Homo sapiens: one gene and its partner. The protein of the gene in region 1 purifies or fractionates together with the protein of each later gene. This does not show direct contact. Each region holds a gene or a part of one and is shown on either strand. Other genes may lie near its edges.

Evidence for each region.
Region 2: the proteins of ARID1A (region 1) and BCL7C purify together in Homo sapiens (affinity purification with mass spectrometry; 6 studies listed by BioGRID and IntAct, with this or other methods). This does not show direct contact.

What each region holds. Positions count from the first base shown.
Region 1 is NC_000001.11:26,762,005-26,769,027, reverse strand, and holds part of ARID1A (AT-rich interactive domain-containing protein 1A), read right to left. Parts: intron 6,877-7,023; coding exon 6,709-6,876; intron 6,056-6,708; coding exon 5,743-6,055; intron 2,808-5,742; coding exon 2,662-2,807; intron 2,572-2,661; coding exon 2,462-2,571; intron 1,239-2,461; coding exon 1,029-1,238; intron 1-1,028. UniProt on the Homo sapiens protein: Involved in transcriptional activation and repression of select genes by chromatin remodeling (alteration of DNA-nucleosome topology).
Region 2 is NC_000016.10:30,891,060-30,898,586, reverse strand, and holds the start of BCL7C (B-cell CLL/lymphoma 7 protein family member C), read left to right. Parts: upstream 1-4,509; 5' UTR 4,510-4,642; coding exon 4,643-4,734; intron 4,735-5,296; coding exon 5,297-5,375; intron 5,376-5,638; coding exon 5,639-5,747; intron 5,748-5,839; coding exon 5,840-6,001; coding exon of another isoform or gene 6,002-6,011; intron 6,012-7,527. Other genes in the region: CTF1 (cardiotrophin-1), read right to left, coding at 2,593-2,683. UniProt on the Homo sapiens protein: May play an anti-apoptotic role.

The DNA of each region.
Region 1 (7,023 bases):
TTGTGGGGGAGGGGAATAAAGCCTGAAGGGAGAAGGAATTCATAACTGACTGTTGGCTGGCTTCATTCCAACCACTTTCTTTTCTGCTGGTGACAGCTGTTTTCCTCTTCTGATTTAGAAGGTTTGGAATAAATCCCTCCCTGCCACACCTCCCCGAGCTCAGCCACAAACTGATCCAACAGCAGGCTTCTGGTCTGGTGACTACAGAACATACACAGGAGGGAAGTCTGCAAGGCACAGTCTGCTGTCTGTCTGTGCTGCCTCACCTGTTTGCTTCCTGGGCTGAGTCTACAAAATTGTAAGGTATCAGAGTAGGCACAAGCTCTGGGTGGTGTCCAATTCAGGTTTTCATTTAAGTTTCCCATACAGAATAACTAAACACATAATTTCCTACTACTTCTTCCTTTATTATAAACTATTTCTACTAAGCAGTTCCTGAAATCCTATCTCTACTGGGAAGCTTCCAGGAATGGGAAGATCTACTTCTACTCTGGCTGCCTCTGTACCATCTTGCAGGCCGATTTATGTGGCAGAAACCTTGCTGAAAGCCAAAGTTATTTCTAACTTTTGACAGTCTAGTGGGTTATATACTGTTACATACTGTTTGTATTTTACAAATAATGAAATTAAGGTTCAGAGTGGTTACACACCTTAAGGTCATATATGTTATAAGTGGCCAAGAAGGGATTCAAAACCAGGTCCATCTCTCCAAATCCTGTCTTTGCTACTATGCCAAATTGCCTCCCATGGAATCAGAATGCCCACAGACTTTCCCTAGCTTTACACCTCAGTGGGACCATAGATACACGGTAAACTTACTGCTAATACCTCATACTACCAGGGAGGTCTCTGCTTCCTGCCTTATCTTCTGGGAAACCTGTGCTCCCCGGTCTATCAATATTAGACTCAGAAAGCGGGAGAGGGGATGATGTCCCTGTGGGATGCATGGTACCACATGAAGCCAGTGAGTACCTAGAAAGGGGTTTGTGGAAACCACAGGGGCAGTCAAGTGTCAGGCGCCCACTCACCTGAGTCAATCCACCAATCTCCTTCACAGACACATAGAGGCGATAGAGGTCCAGAGGTTTCCTACCCACAGCAGGCAGATTTGTCATGCCCATGGCCTTCTCCTCAGTGAAGGCCAGATAACGGTCCACCCACATCTTCCTCTCAGGCTCACCACCCAGCTCATACAACTTGGTGATCTTCTCATTGGTTGTAGTAGAAGAACTGGATTTCTGGAAGGTTCAGGTCAAAATTCATAGGAATGGGTCAGATTCAAAGCCTGTGCTAAGGGTCTCAGAAGTCTCTTGACTGGAGCAGTGTTAAAGCTTCTTACTCTGGGGTGGTTACTAACACCTGTCCTACCTTCATAAGGTTGAAGGGCCAAAAGAGAACCAAATTTTTTTTTCCTATAAAGGAAGGAAGCTAACACTAAATATATGTTATGTACTGGGTGCTGTGCTAGATGCCTTTATATATTAGGTATTATAAAATTATCCCCATTTGTAAAGATAAGGAAGCAGGCACCAGGAGGCAAAGCCTAAGATCTCACAGCTTTTAAGTGGCAGGCTGAGTATCAAATCCTTGTCCACCTGACATCAAAGCCACTACTGCTCCCACACTACTACCCAGGAGCCTGAACATACTTAGGTACTATGTTTTAGAGAAATCGAAAAACTCACAACATGATCTTGAGGCAATGGGATGGACTAAAATGAAAAGAAACTCTTTGCCTCTTCTAAACAAAGGAAAGGTTTCCCACCTGGTTGAAGGGCTTTGGATATTATCCTGTACAAGACAGGAACGTGGTCAAAAGGGCTGGGAGCCAGAGGTGAAGACTCACAGGAATTAACAGCTATGATTTTTATTTTCCCTATGTATACAGATAGGGAAAGTGAGGTATGGCCAAGGACAGAAATATTACAAATGACCCAAATGCTGAGTAGGACCCTTTACTACCGCACAGCCTAACAGTACACCCAGGACCAACCTAAGGGAAGCCAAGGACTCAAGCCTCATCTGCCTTATCTCCTTCTTTACAGAACACAGGGTACCATTCCTGCTGCTATGAGTAAGGTTCAGGAAGAGAAGAGCAACTAGTTGCCCATGGCACACCCCATCTATCAATGCTTGAGTATAGGAGGCACGGTTTCACAGAGGGCACCAGCCAAACAGTACAGAGAGTTTGATGCTGCAGTGTCTGGCATTTCCCCCATAACAAACAGCTGTGAGAATATTATGTTATTTACCAGGATCCCTTAGACCAACCCAGACCCAACTCACTGAGCTATTATTCTGGGACCTTTCATGATAAGAGGAGGCAACAGCAGCTTTTTCAGAGACTATCTAGTCCGGTGTCATAAAAGGCTGGGATCTTGTCACTCTCTTTTCTTTTTCCTTCCTATCACTGAAAAAGATAGGACACAAAGTTGAAAGGAGTCAAGACAAAAATCACTACCTTGGATTTGGATTCTGTCTTGGGTGTCCCATCTGCCTTGTTGTTCATTTTGGTGGCTGGAGTTAACTTTACATCCCCAAGGCCCATCATCTCTGGGCTGGCTGCCATCCCTGTAAAAGAGAAAAAAATTCTCAAGTCCAGTAAGTTTAGCTGTGATGTGACTCTTGAAGAAATCCCTAGTGAGAATGACTAGCACTTACCTGCAGAATTGTTGGCCATGGTTCCACCCATGGAATATGGGGGTCCCTGAGGGTTGATCATGCCAGCCATACTATTAATCCCTTGTCCATAAGGAGGTCCAGTTCCCATCATGCCCCCTTGATTCATATTGGGGTAGCCTGGCGGCCTAAGGAAGAAGATGGAAAGTGAGAGAGACAAAGGTTAGACTCTGAGCTTTTAGATTTGAACTGGAGCCAAATAGTGCTGTGTGATCATCTAGTAAGGATTAAAAGGAAAACATTTATGGGTCCCCAAAACTAGAACTATGCAACATCCAGATATTATTTTTCTTTAATTTATTTTCTTGAGACAGGGTATTGCTCTGGCACCCTGGCTGGAATGCAGTGGTGTGATCATAGCTTACTGCAGCCTTAATCTCCTGAGCTCAAACAATCTGCCTTCCTCAGCCTCCTGAGTGCCTAAGACTATGAGGCATGCACCACCATGTCCAGCTAACACCCAGATTTTCTTTTTTTTTTTTTTGAGACAGAGTTTCACTCTTGTTGCCCAGGCTGGAGTGCAATGGTGAAATCTCGGCTCACTGCAATCTCAGCCTCCCAGGTTCAAGCAATTCTCCTTTCTCAGCCTCCCAAATAGCTGGGATTACAGGCATGTACCACCACACCCGGCTAATGTTGTATTTTTAGTAGAGATGGGCTTTCTCCATGTTGGTCAGGCTGGTCTCGAACTCCTGACTTCAGGTGATCCACCTGCCTCGGCTTCCCAAAATGCTGGAATTACAGGCATGAGCCACCGAGCCCGGCCAACACCCAGATTTTCTTATCTTCTACCTCCCACGAAAGATACTAAGAGAGTTCAAGCTCTAGATAGCAAACAATAGTTCAATTTTTTTTTTTTTTGAGATGGAGTCTCGCTCTGTTGCCCAGGCTGGAGAGCAGTGGCGCGATCTCAGCTCACTGCAAGCTCCGCCTCCCGGGTTCACGCCATTCTCCTGCCTCAGCCTCCCAAGTAGCTGGGACTACAGGCACCTGCCACCACGCCCGGCTAATTTTTTGTACTTTATTAGTAGAGACAGGGTTTCACCGTATTAGCCAGGATGGTCTCGATGTCCTGACCTCGTTATCCGCCTGCCTCAGCCTCCCAAAATGCTGGGATTACAGGGGTGAGCCACCATGCCCGGCCAATTTTTTTTTGAGATGGAGTTTCACTCATCTCCCAGGCTGGAGTGCAATGGCATGATCTCGGCTCACTGCAACCTCCGCCTCCCAGGTTCAAGCCATTCTGCCTCAGCCTCGTGAGTAGCTGGGATTACAGGCGCCCACCACCATGCCTGGCTATTTTTTTGTATTTTTAGTAGAGATGGGGTTTTGCCATGCTGGGCAGGCTGGTCTTGAACTTCTGACCTCAGGTGATCCACCTGCCTCAGCCTCCCAAAGTGCTAGGATTACAGGAGTGAGCCACCGCACCCGGCCACAATAGCTCAATTTCAAAGGGTGTAATTCTTTGAAGCAGAGCCCTGCTGTGTCCTTTAAGTACTGCCTTCCTCAAAGCCACCTCCAAAGTCAAGTTGTATTTCCATTTAAGGGCCCTGTCTGTGGCAAAAGGCATAGATGAAATGCTGAACTGTACCACTTTTTGTCATGCTAAATCCCAACCAGACTGGAACCCTCAGCATAGCACCCAGAGGTGGCTTTGCATTATTTCTTGAGGGGCCCAATGCAAACTTTGCACTTCCATCATTCTGAAGTTCTACCAAATCCACCTCTTTATAGTCAATCGCCCTATTCTACCTTGGTTCATCAACAACAACTCAGTAAGATTTAGTGGCTAAAGAAGTTGTTAAACCTAATCACATGAGCCTTCTGTACTCTAGCACCAGAGTCAACACGTAGGACCACATAAAACAGTAGGAGAAATGGCAAACCACAAGCTTACCATTTGCTATTTCTAACACCAAAGATCCAAGACATATGTATCATTAAGAATCCTTTTGGAAACCAAAAAGTTGACTGATAGAAGTTAAACCACCTACTCTGAACACTTATTTTGCACATCAAAATAAGCAGTCTTTAGCCCTGGCAACACACTGAGACCCCATCTCTATTTAAAAAAAAAAAAAAAAGGCCGGGCATGGTGGATCATGCCTGTAATCCCAGCACTTTCAGAGGCCAAGGCAGGCAGCTCACTGGAGGTCAGGATTTTGAGACCAGCCTGGCTAACATGGTGAAACCCAGTCTAAAAATATAAAAATTAGCAGGGCATGGTGGCGGGTGCCTGTAACACCAGCTACTTGGGAGGCTGAGGCAGGACAATTGGTTGAACCTGGAAAGCAGAGGTGGCAGTGAGCTGAAAGTGTGCCATTACACTCCAGCTTGGGCAACAGAGTGAGACAGTCTCTAAATAAATAAATAAATATAAAAAATAAAAAAAATTAGCTGGGTGTGGTGGTGTGTGCCTGTAGTCCCAACTACTCAGAAGGCTGAGGTGGGAGGATCACTTGAGCCTGGGAGGTCGAGGCTGCAGTGAACTGTGGTCATGCCACTGCAATTCAGCCTGGGGAACAGAGCAGGGTCCTGTCTCAAAAGACCCCAAAATAAAACACCCCACAAAACCCCTTTTTTCGACAGTCTCGCTCTGTCGCCCAGGCTGGAGTGTGGTGGCGCAGTCTTGGCTCACTGCAACCTCTTCCTCCTGGGTTCAAGTGATTCTCCTGCCTCAGCCTCCCGATAGCCGGGATTACAGGCGTGCGCCACCACACCCAGCTAATTTTTGTATTTTTAGTACAGACGGGGTTTCACCATGTTGATCAGGCTGGTCTTGATTTCTGACCTCATGATCTGCCCGCCTTGGCCTCCCAAAGTGCTAGGATTACAGGCATGAGCCGCCACGCCCGGCCAAAAACCTGTCTTTTATAAAGCTCATTACATATGATGTTTAGTCACGTGAAATTTCAGACCCATCTAAGGTATGTAAGAATTAACACTTCATACACACACACCCATTTTCCCCCCCTGGTTTAGGTCCAGAAGCATCTCAATAATCTGAGTGGGTCTATAATACATTTTCTTGCACTGACACCCTCTCTGCTTCCCAGGCCTTACCTGTTTTGGATAGAGTTGGCAGCAACATGCATGGCGACAGCAGTTTCTTGGGTTTTCCGGTTCATGCCCCCTGGTGGGGGACACATCCCTGACCCAACCTGAGGTGGCATATTGGCCATGTTAGGGCCATAAGGCCGGTTGCCCATGGAGGCGTGACTCATCCTCCCTGGAGGGAGTGTGCCATAAGGTGGGATGCCAGGCTGTCCATGCATTTGACCTCCGGCACCCATGGGGTTTATGCCTCCAGCCATGCCTGCACTGGGGTAGTTGGCATTGGGCAAGGCATTATAGTTTGGCTGCCTGGGGTAGCCACCTGGGAGGGGAGGAAGACAAGACTTGGTTAGTCACTCACTAGCAACTCACTAATATCTCTCAACTCTAGAACACCAAACAATGTCATTCAATATTTTGGTTAGGAAAGAGATCAACTTCATGGTAGCCTTTATCGCCATGAGAAAAAGGGGGGGATTCCAGAAGCATGTAAAGGCAGGTCAGAGCAAGGCTGGCTTTGCTGCCACACAGGCATTTCAACTTCCAGAAGAAGATAACTTCCTTTCTATTTCCATGCTCTGTGTAAGATTCTCAACTTTTGATCAGCCTAGGGCTGCAATTTTGAGCAAAGATCTATTCCATTATGACTTATTCACTAAAAATAATTAATAAAAAAATAATAACCAAGAGCTACCATGTATAAATTGTCTGTGCTCAATGGTGGAGTAAACACCTAATCTCCATTTTTATAAATGAAACAGAGGCTCAGTGAAATTGAAAGACTTTCTCATGGTGACAGAATAAGTGGAGACAAATGGAATCTTGCCTTGCCCTACTTCAGGGCCTGGGCTGGGTGGATTAAAGGCAAAGGACAGCCCTTCTCTCACAAGGTTACAAGCTAGATGGCAACATATCAGACAAGGAACTGTTTTCTCCTCTCACCCGTATCTACTCCTAACTGGGTAGTATACTGACCTTGTGGGCCATACTGACCCCCCTGGGGACCATAGCTCCCCATGGAGTTCTGCTGGTAGGAGCCCATGCCTGTGTGTATCTGTCCTCCGGAAGGCTGACGCGGAGATAAGGCTGAGCCGGGCTGGGGGGAACTGTACTGGGGCATCTGGGGGTTCCTCTGCATATAACCTATTTGTGGGTAGCATCCATATAGTTATTAGCTTTATACAATGCGAACAAATGCTCTCCATCCTTATCCTGGGACTTTACCATCTACATTTTCTTTAGCAGCCACTTGCATGGAGTCTCTATCTGATTTTCTATATAGTGGTGTGT
Region 2 (7,527 bases), on another chromosome or scaffold:
GCGTGGTGGCTCACGCCTGTAATCCCAGCACTTTGGGAGCCCGAGATGGGCAGATCACTTGAGGTCAGGAGTTTGAGACCAGCCTGGCCAACATGGTGAAACCCCGTTTCTACTAAAAATACAAAAATTAGCCAGGCATTGGGCTCAGTGGTTCACGCCTTTAATCCCACACTTTGGGAGGATGAGGCGGGCGGATCACTTGAAGTCAGGAGTTCGGGACCATCTGGTGAAACCCTGTCTCTACTAAAAATACAAAAATTAGTCAGGCATGATGGTGGGTGCCTGTAATCCCAGCTACCAGGGGGCCTGAGGCATGAGAATCGCTTGAACCTGGGAGGAGGAGGTTGCATTGAGCTGAGATCAGGTCACTGCACTCCAGCCTGGGTGACAGACCGAGACTTCGTCTCAAAAAAAAAAAAAAAAATTGTCCAGGCGCAGTGGCTCACGCCTGTAATCCTAGCACTTTGGAGGGCTGAGGCAGGTGGATCACGAGGTCAAGAGATCAATACCATCCTAGCCAACATGATGAAACCTCATCTCTACTAAAAATACAAAAAAAAAAAAATTAGCTGGACTTGGTGGCACACGCCTGTAGTCCCAGCTACTTGGGAGGCTGAGGCAGGAGAATTGCTTGAACCCAGGAGGCAGAGGTTGCAGTGAGCCAAGGCCACTGCACTCCAGCCTGGCAACAGAGAAAGACTCCATCCCAAAAGAGAAAGAGAGAGAGAGAGAGAGACGGAGTCTTGCTCTTTCGCCCAGGATGGGGTGCAGTGGTGCAATCTTGGCTCACTGCAGCCTCGACCTCCTGGGCTCAAGCGATCCTCCCGCCTGGGTCTCCTGTGTAGCTGGGACTACAGGCATGCGCCACCATGCCCGGTTAATTTTTGTATTTTTTTGTAGAGACAGGGTTTCGCCATGTTGCCCAGGCTAAAAATGCATAGAATCTTATGGGACCTCCATTGTCTGTGCGGTCCACCTGTTGACCAAATGTTGTTATGCAGTGCATGACTGTACTGCCTCCTCAGTGAAGCCTCCAGAATCACTTCTCCTTTATAAACGAACTCCTTCCTTTGACTTAAGGCCATTTGCATGAGTTCCAGGGTAGCTCTTTTAACGGCTTTTCTGTGTGTATCTGCCTTAGCCTGAGAGCCCTTTGAAGACAGGGCTTACATATTTCTACCTCAGTGACTGCTAGTGGACTTCAACATCATCGAAGTACAGAACTTCATATCAAAATGTGCCTTGAAGGCCCATTTTACAGATAGGGAGACTGACTTCCATTTCCATTTCTCTCCCTGATGCCCCATCCATGCAAGGCGCTGGCCTGGCTAGTCAGCGAATCAAGGTCCGCAAGAGCCAGTGTCTGGCGCCCCGGGAGGGACTCCATTTCCCGAAACGCACAGCGCGCGCCCGATGCGTGCTGGGGAATGTAGTCCTGACCCGGTGCCCCGCCCCCGCCCCACCCCCGAAGTTTCCCAGCACCAGTCGCGATCCTCAGCAGCCCAGACTTTCGTCTCCTGTTGTCACTCACTACTTCCTGTGACTCCAAGACTGCCTTCCCTTACTCTACCCCTTCCTTCAGCCCCCCAGCTCTGATTCTTTCCCGAGACTCAGTGGACGCAGGGGTCCTGCCCCAGCCCCGACCCCAGTCCTCCCCCTGGGTGTACTCGAACCGGTGATCTAAGCCCTGAGCCCAGGTCCCTGAAACCTCAGCCCCAGGCCTCCTCTAAACCCTAGCGCCTGCTGTTTCTCACAACTCACCCGCTCACTCGTTACCTGACACCGGAGCCCTGCCCTTCCCCGCCAAGGCCGCTCCCCTCCCGGACCCGGGGGTGGCGGAAACCCAGACCCCCAGCTCCCAATCCCTCTGACTCCTGCGCCCCTCAGCGACCCGGCGTCCGGTCCCTCAGCCCCTTACCCAGACTTCCCTCCCTCCGGCTCATGCTGGCCCCTGGCTGATCCCGGCTCCCTTCACGCCCCCCTTTCGAGGGGGGAGAAAGGGGAAAGGGCTGGGGGCGTGGCCCGGGCGCAGCCAATCAGAGCCCAGACCCCAAACATTTCATCCTACCCCCCCTTTTGAGACAGGATTCCTTGGCCCTGAGCTCAGCTCCTCGTCCGTGGGGCCTAGTGGGGGAAGGGGCCCGAGGGGGAAGGCAAGTTGTCTGCCGGGTGGACAGGACCTCGGGGCTGGGGGTGTCAGGGCCTGGGAGGCAGCCCAATGTTCTGCCGCGGGCTCAGGCTTGGACCTGAGGCAGCGGCTGCTTTGGGTGTAAAGCTGAGGAGACAGGAGAGGGAACTGCCGGACTGGCAGGACAGGAATGCGCAGGCCCTCTCTCTAGTCTGGGGCGCGGCTTGCGAGGGAGGCTACGATGGGGGCCGTCAGGCTTGGGGCATGTTTGTCCAGACATACATCTCCTGGCCTATCTTAGATGGCTTCCAATCTCATTGTCACACCCACCAGGAGGGAGACAGATACACTGCTCTCCTCTTCTTAGCAGGCCTAGTAACAATCACACCCCGCCCCCCACCCCCAGGAGAACAAGCTACAGAGACCTGGACAGGAAGTCACACCCATACGTCAACCCCATTAACCTGGTGTAGACGGAAAGGAAGGCACATAGGGATGATCCATACTTGGTTTCTGGCCCCCGCGAGGGGCTCGCGGTCTGTCGAGGAAGCCCATAGACAACAGAAGCTAATGGGGTTTGTGAATGAAGACGAGGAGGCCCGTGTGTGTGTGCGCTTGCGTGTGTCTGCGTGTGTGCGTGCATGCGGACGTGTGTGCGTGTGAGCATGCGTGTGTGCGAGTGGATTTGTGTGCGTGTGAGTGTGCAGGTGTGCGCGTGTGTGCATGTGCGCGTGCATGTGTGTGCGTGTGTTCGTGTGAGTGGGTGTGTGTATTGCCGTGAGCAATTGCTGGAATAAAAGAAGAAAGAGTTTAACTGGAGAGGGCACAGCAGATAGAATTGAGCCAGACAATTGGTAGGGCCCACAATCACATGTGTATTAACTGTAAATATTTATTGGGCATTTACCATGTGCTGGGCACTGTTCTAAGAGCCATATGCACATTAACTAACTCCTGTGTTATAGATGCGGAATAGAGAGAAGTGACTTGTCCAGGGTAACACAGTTAGGTGTGGCACAACTGGGATTTTACCTAAGCAGCTTGGCTCAAAAAAATGCTGTCTTAACCATGCTCCTAACCCCTTATACCCTTAACCTCTGGACATGGTCACGCCCAAATTCACAGACACAACAGCCACACCTTGAAACACACACACACACACAACAGCAGCACAAATTTTGACATGGTCTTATCTGCTGACAAGCCAGCCTCAAATAAAGTCAACAAAGACACACTCATTTTATTTAAGTAATGTACATTTTATTTAAGTCATGTGATGGATTTTCACAGAATACATATGCCCAGGGAACCAGCACCAGATTACACAACAGAACTGGATCAGCTCCCAGAAGCTCTCCCCTCGTCCCCTCCCAACCCTAAGGGCGATCACTATCTTGACTTTGGTGCACTATAAATTAGTTTTGTCTGGTTCTGAACGTAATACACCTGGAACCATCTAGTATGTACTGTTGCATTTGGCTTCTGTCACTCAAGATTTCATCATGCGACTTGTCTATGTTGCTGTGTGTAGCCGGGCATGTCAATCCCGTTGCTGTGTCTATGTGCATGGTAGTGAGTAGGGCATCATTCATTTTCCATTCTGTTGATGGGTTATTTCCAGTTTGGGGCTGTTATGAAAGGGCTCTGAACATTCCCATGCACCCTCTTGATGCTCACACCTACACATTTCTGCTGGGTGTTGACAGCCTAGGAGTGGAACTGCTGGATCACAGAGGTGGCATATGTTCGGCTTCATTAGAAAACTGCCAGTTTTCCAAAATGTCTCTACCAATTTACACTCCCCCAGAAATACAAGAGAGGTCCAGTCGCTCTACTTTCTCGCCTCCACACGGTGCGGTCTTTTTCACTTTAGCCATTCTGGTGGTGGAGACCCACTCGTATTCGCAGCGCCTGGAGCGTAATTGGCACTCAGTTAACAAGACTGTTGAATGAATGGATGACTGAGTAAGTTGGGCGGTGTAGACCAACAGCCTGGCGAGGGCGGACACACGCACGCACTCCACACACAGCGTTTCGCGGACACCCACCGCGGCTCACGCAGCGCAGGACACAGACCCTGTCGCGCACCCCGCGCCCACGTGGTCTGAACACACGGCCTCGGCCCTGCCTCGCGCGTCCGGTCGCAACTCCCGCTCTCCGTCCCCAACTCGCGCGTCCGTCCCCAACTCCCGCTCTCGGCGGCGGGCAGGGGGCGCTGAGCGTCCAGGCGCTCCAAGGGGGCGGGCCCGGGTCGGGGCGGGGCCGGCCGGGCTTCCAGGCCTGGGCTCTGGCCGCCCGCGCCACCGGGCCGCTCCGGGGACAGGCCGGGGCGGGGCGCGGCGGCAGGAAACGGGGCGGGGACTTGCGGAGGCGTTGGGGACGAGAGAGGGCGCGGCCAACTCCAGGGGGGACGGCAGGCCGAGAGCGCGGCGCCCGGGCCTGGCGCGGAGCCTGAGCCCGCCGGACGGGAGGCGGCCCCGCCGCGGGCTCGGCCCCGGCCCCAGCCCCGCCAGCATGGCCGGCCGGACTGTACGGGCCGAGACCCGGAGCCGGGCCAAGGATGACATCAAGAAGGTGATGGCGACCATCGAGAAGGTCCGGAGATGGTGAGCGCTGCTCGGGGGCCAGGGACGGGACACAGCGGGACCACCAGCACCAAAGGCGTCTACGCTGCCCTCGCCAGCTCTGGGCCCCGGGTGTTCGGTGTATCTCCACCCACTAGCTTTGCCCTGGATCCACAGGGCTCTGTCCCCGTTCGCCTGGCTACTCCTGGGGGTCTACAAAGCGTGATCCCCAGCCGTGTCCTCCCAGAGCGGGAGCCCCCTCTTGTGCCCCGCCCCCTAAAGCTTTGACACCCCTCCTGCAGGTGCGCCCCAGGATCTGCAGGGCTCTGATCCCGGGCCAGGCCCATAGCCACGCCCCCCATGTGTGCCCCAGGGGTCCGCAGAGCCAGGGCCCCAAATCATATCCTCTCTCTAGAGGCACCCACCGCCTATGCCCTGGGGTTTGCAGGACTCTCTTCCTCCATGTAACTATGCCCCATTAGCAAAACTGTTGCTATCCTCCTGTGCCTCCTCAACCTCTGCAGGTACCCCCAGATGTGTCCAGCTCCTAGGGGGGTGGGTCTCCCCTCAGGCCTCTCTGACCCAGCCCCCCACCCTCCCACAGGGAGAAGCGATGGGTGACTGTGGGCGACACTTCCCTTCGTATCTTCAAGTGGGTGCCAGTGGTGGATCCCCAGGAGGAGGTGAGCAACCCCCATTCCCACAAGGCCCTGCATCTGTGCAACCTCAGGCAAGTTCCTCCCCACGCTGACCTCTACCTCCAGCTCCCCGAGACCTCAGATGCAGCAGGACAGACGGGAACCATCATTAGCAGCTCCTCCCCTTTTGCCCTCTTTTCTGCTCCACACCCCCTGAGTTTGAGCCCTTTTGCTTCTCAGTGCCTCAGTTTCCTTAGGTGTATGGTGGGGCTTTCCAAGAGCTCTGACCCTAATCCTCTAACCCCCAGGAGCGAAGGCGGGCAGGTGGCGGGGCAGAGAGATCCCGTGGCCGGGAACGTCGGGGCAGGGGCGCCAGTCCCCGAGGGGGTGGCCCTCTCATCCTGCTGGATCTTAATGGTAGGTAGGGATCCTGAAACGCGGGGGGCTGTGGGGACTGAAGGAGTGTACTAGGGATCTCAGGCCAACCATCTCGGCTCTTGCTCCCGCAGATGAGAACAGCAACCAGAGTTTCCATTCGGAAGGTTCCCTGCAAAAGGGCACAGAGCCCAGTCCTGGGGGCACCCCCCAGCCCAGCCGCCCTGTGTCACCTGCCGGACCCCCAGAAGGGGTCCCTGAGGAGGCTCAGCCCCCACGGCTGGGCCAAGAGAGAGGTAGGACCAGGTACCTCCCAGGAGCTCTCTCCTCTAAGTCCTGTCTTCTCCAGAGTCTAACCTACCAGCTCATCCCTATACCTGCTCCCCGTCTTGTGCACCCTCCTCAAGGCGCCTTCCGACTCCTGCAGAATCTCCCTGTAGCTACAGTCTCATTCCTCTGGTCTCTTAGAATCTATACAGACATATCACTGTCTGAGATTTTCATGTAAATTAATTTTTTACTAGTTTATCTTTCTCCTCACTCTCATGTCAGTTTCCTGAATGTTGGGCCCATATTGATCCTTTTTTTTTTTTTTTTTTTTTTTTTTTTTTGAGAAAGGGTCTCGCTCTGTCACCCAGGCTGGAGTAGTATAGTGGTGTGATCATAGCTCACTGCAGCCTTGAACTTCCTGGGCTCAAGCGATCCTCCCGCCTCAGCCTCCCAAGTAGCTGGGACCACAGGCATATGCCACCACACCTGGCTAATTTTTGTATTTTTTGTAGAGATAAGGTTTCACCATGTTGCCCAGGCTGGTCTCAAACTCACTTGCTCAAGCAGTCCTCCACCTTCAGCCTCCCAAAGTGCTGGGATTACGGGTGTGAGCCATCACACCCACACCCGGCCCTCCCCCCCCTTTTTTTTAGAGACAAGGTCTCTGTCACCCACGCTGGAGTACTCTGGTGCAATCATAGCTCACTGCAGCCTCAAACTCCTGGGCTCAAGGGATCCTCTGGCCCCAGCCTCCCAAATAGCTGGGACTCAGGTGTGTGCCACCATGCCCAGCCAATTCTTAAATTTTTTGTAGAGGTAGGGTCTCGCTATGTTGCCAAGGTTGGTTTTGAACTCGTGGCCTGAAATGATCCTCCTGTCTCAGCCTCCCAAGGTGCTGGGATTATAGGCGTGAGTCACTGTGCCTGGCCCTATGTGATCTTGTTCACTACTGTATCCTCAGAATAATATGGGACACATAGTAGGTGCTCAGTAAATATCTGTTGAGTGAATAAATAATAGTGATAGTCATAGGGGTGATTAACAATAATAGGAATAACAACAGCTAGTATTTATTGAGCTCTTACTGTGTGCTAGGTGCCCTGGTAAACACTTTACGTGGTTGGGTTTTTTTCTTTTCTCTTTTTCTTTTCTTTGAGAGAGTTTCGCTCTTGCCAAGGCTGGAGTGCGACGGCACAATCTTGGCTCACTGCAACCTTCACCTCCTGGGTTCAGGCAATTCTCCTGCCTCAGCCTCCTGGGTAGCTGGGAATATAGGCATGAACCACCATGCTCGGCTGGTTTTGTATTTTTAGTAGAGTTGGGGTTTCGCCATGTTGGCCAGGCTGGTCTCAAACGCCTGACCTCAGGTGATCTGCCCGCCTTGGCCTCCCAAAGTGCTGGGATTACGAGCCACCACGCCCAGCCTTTTTTTTTTTTTTTTTTGAGATGAAGTCTTGCTCTGTTGCCCAGGCTGGAGAGCAGTGGTACGATCTTGGCTCACTGCAAACTCTGCCTCCCAGGTTCAAGCGATTCTTCTGCCTCAGCCTCCCAT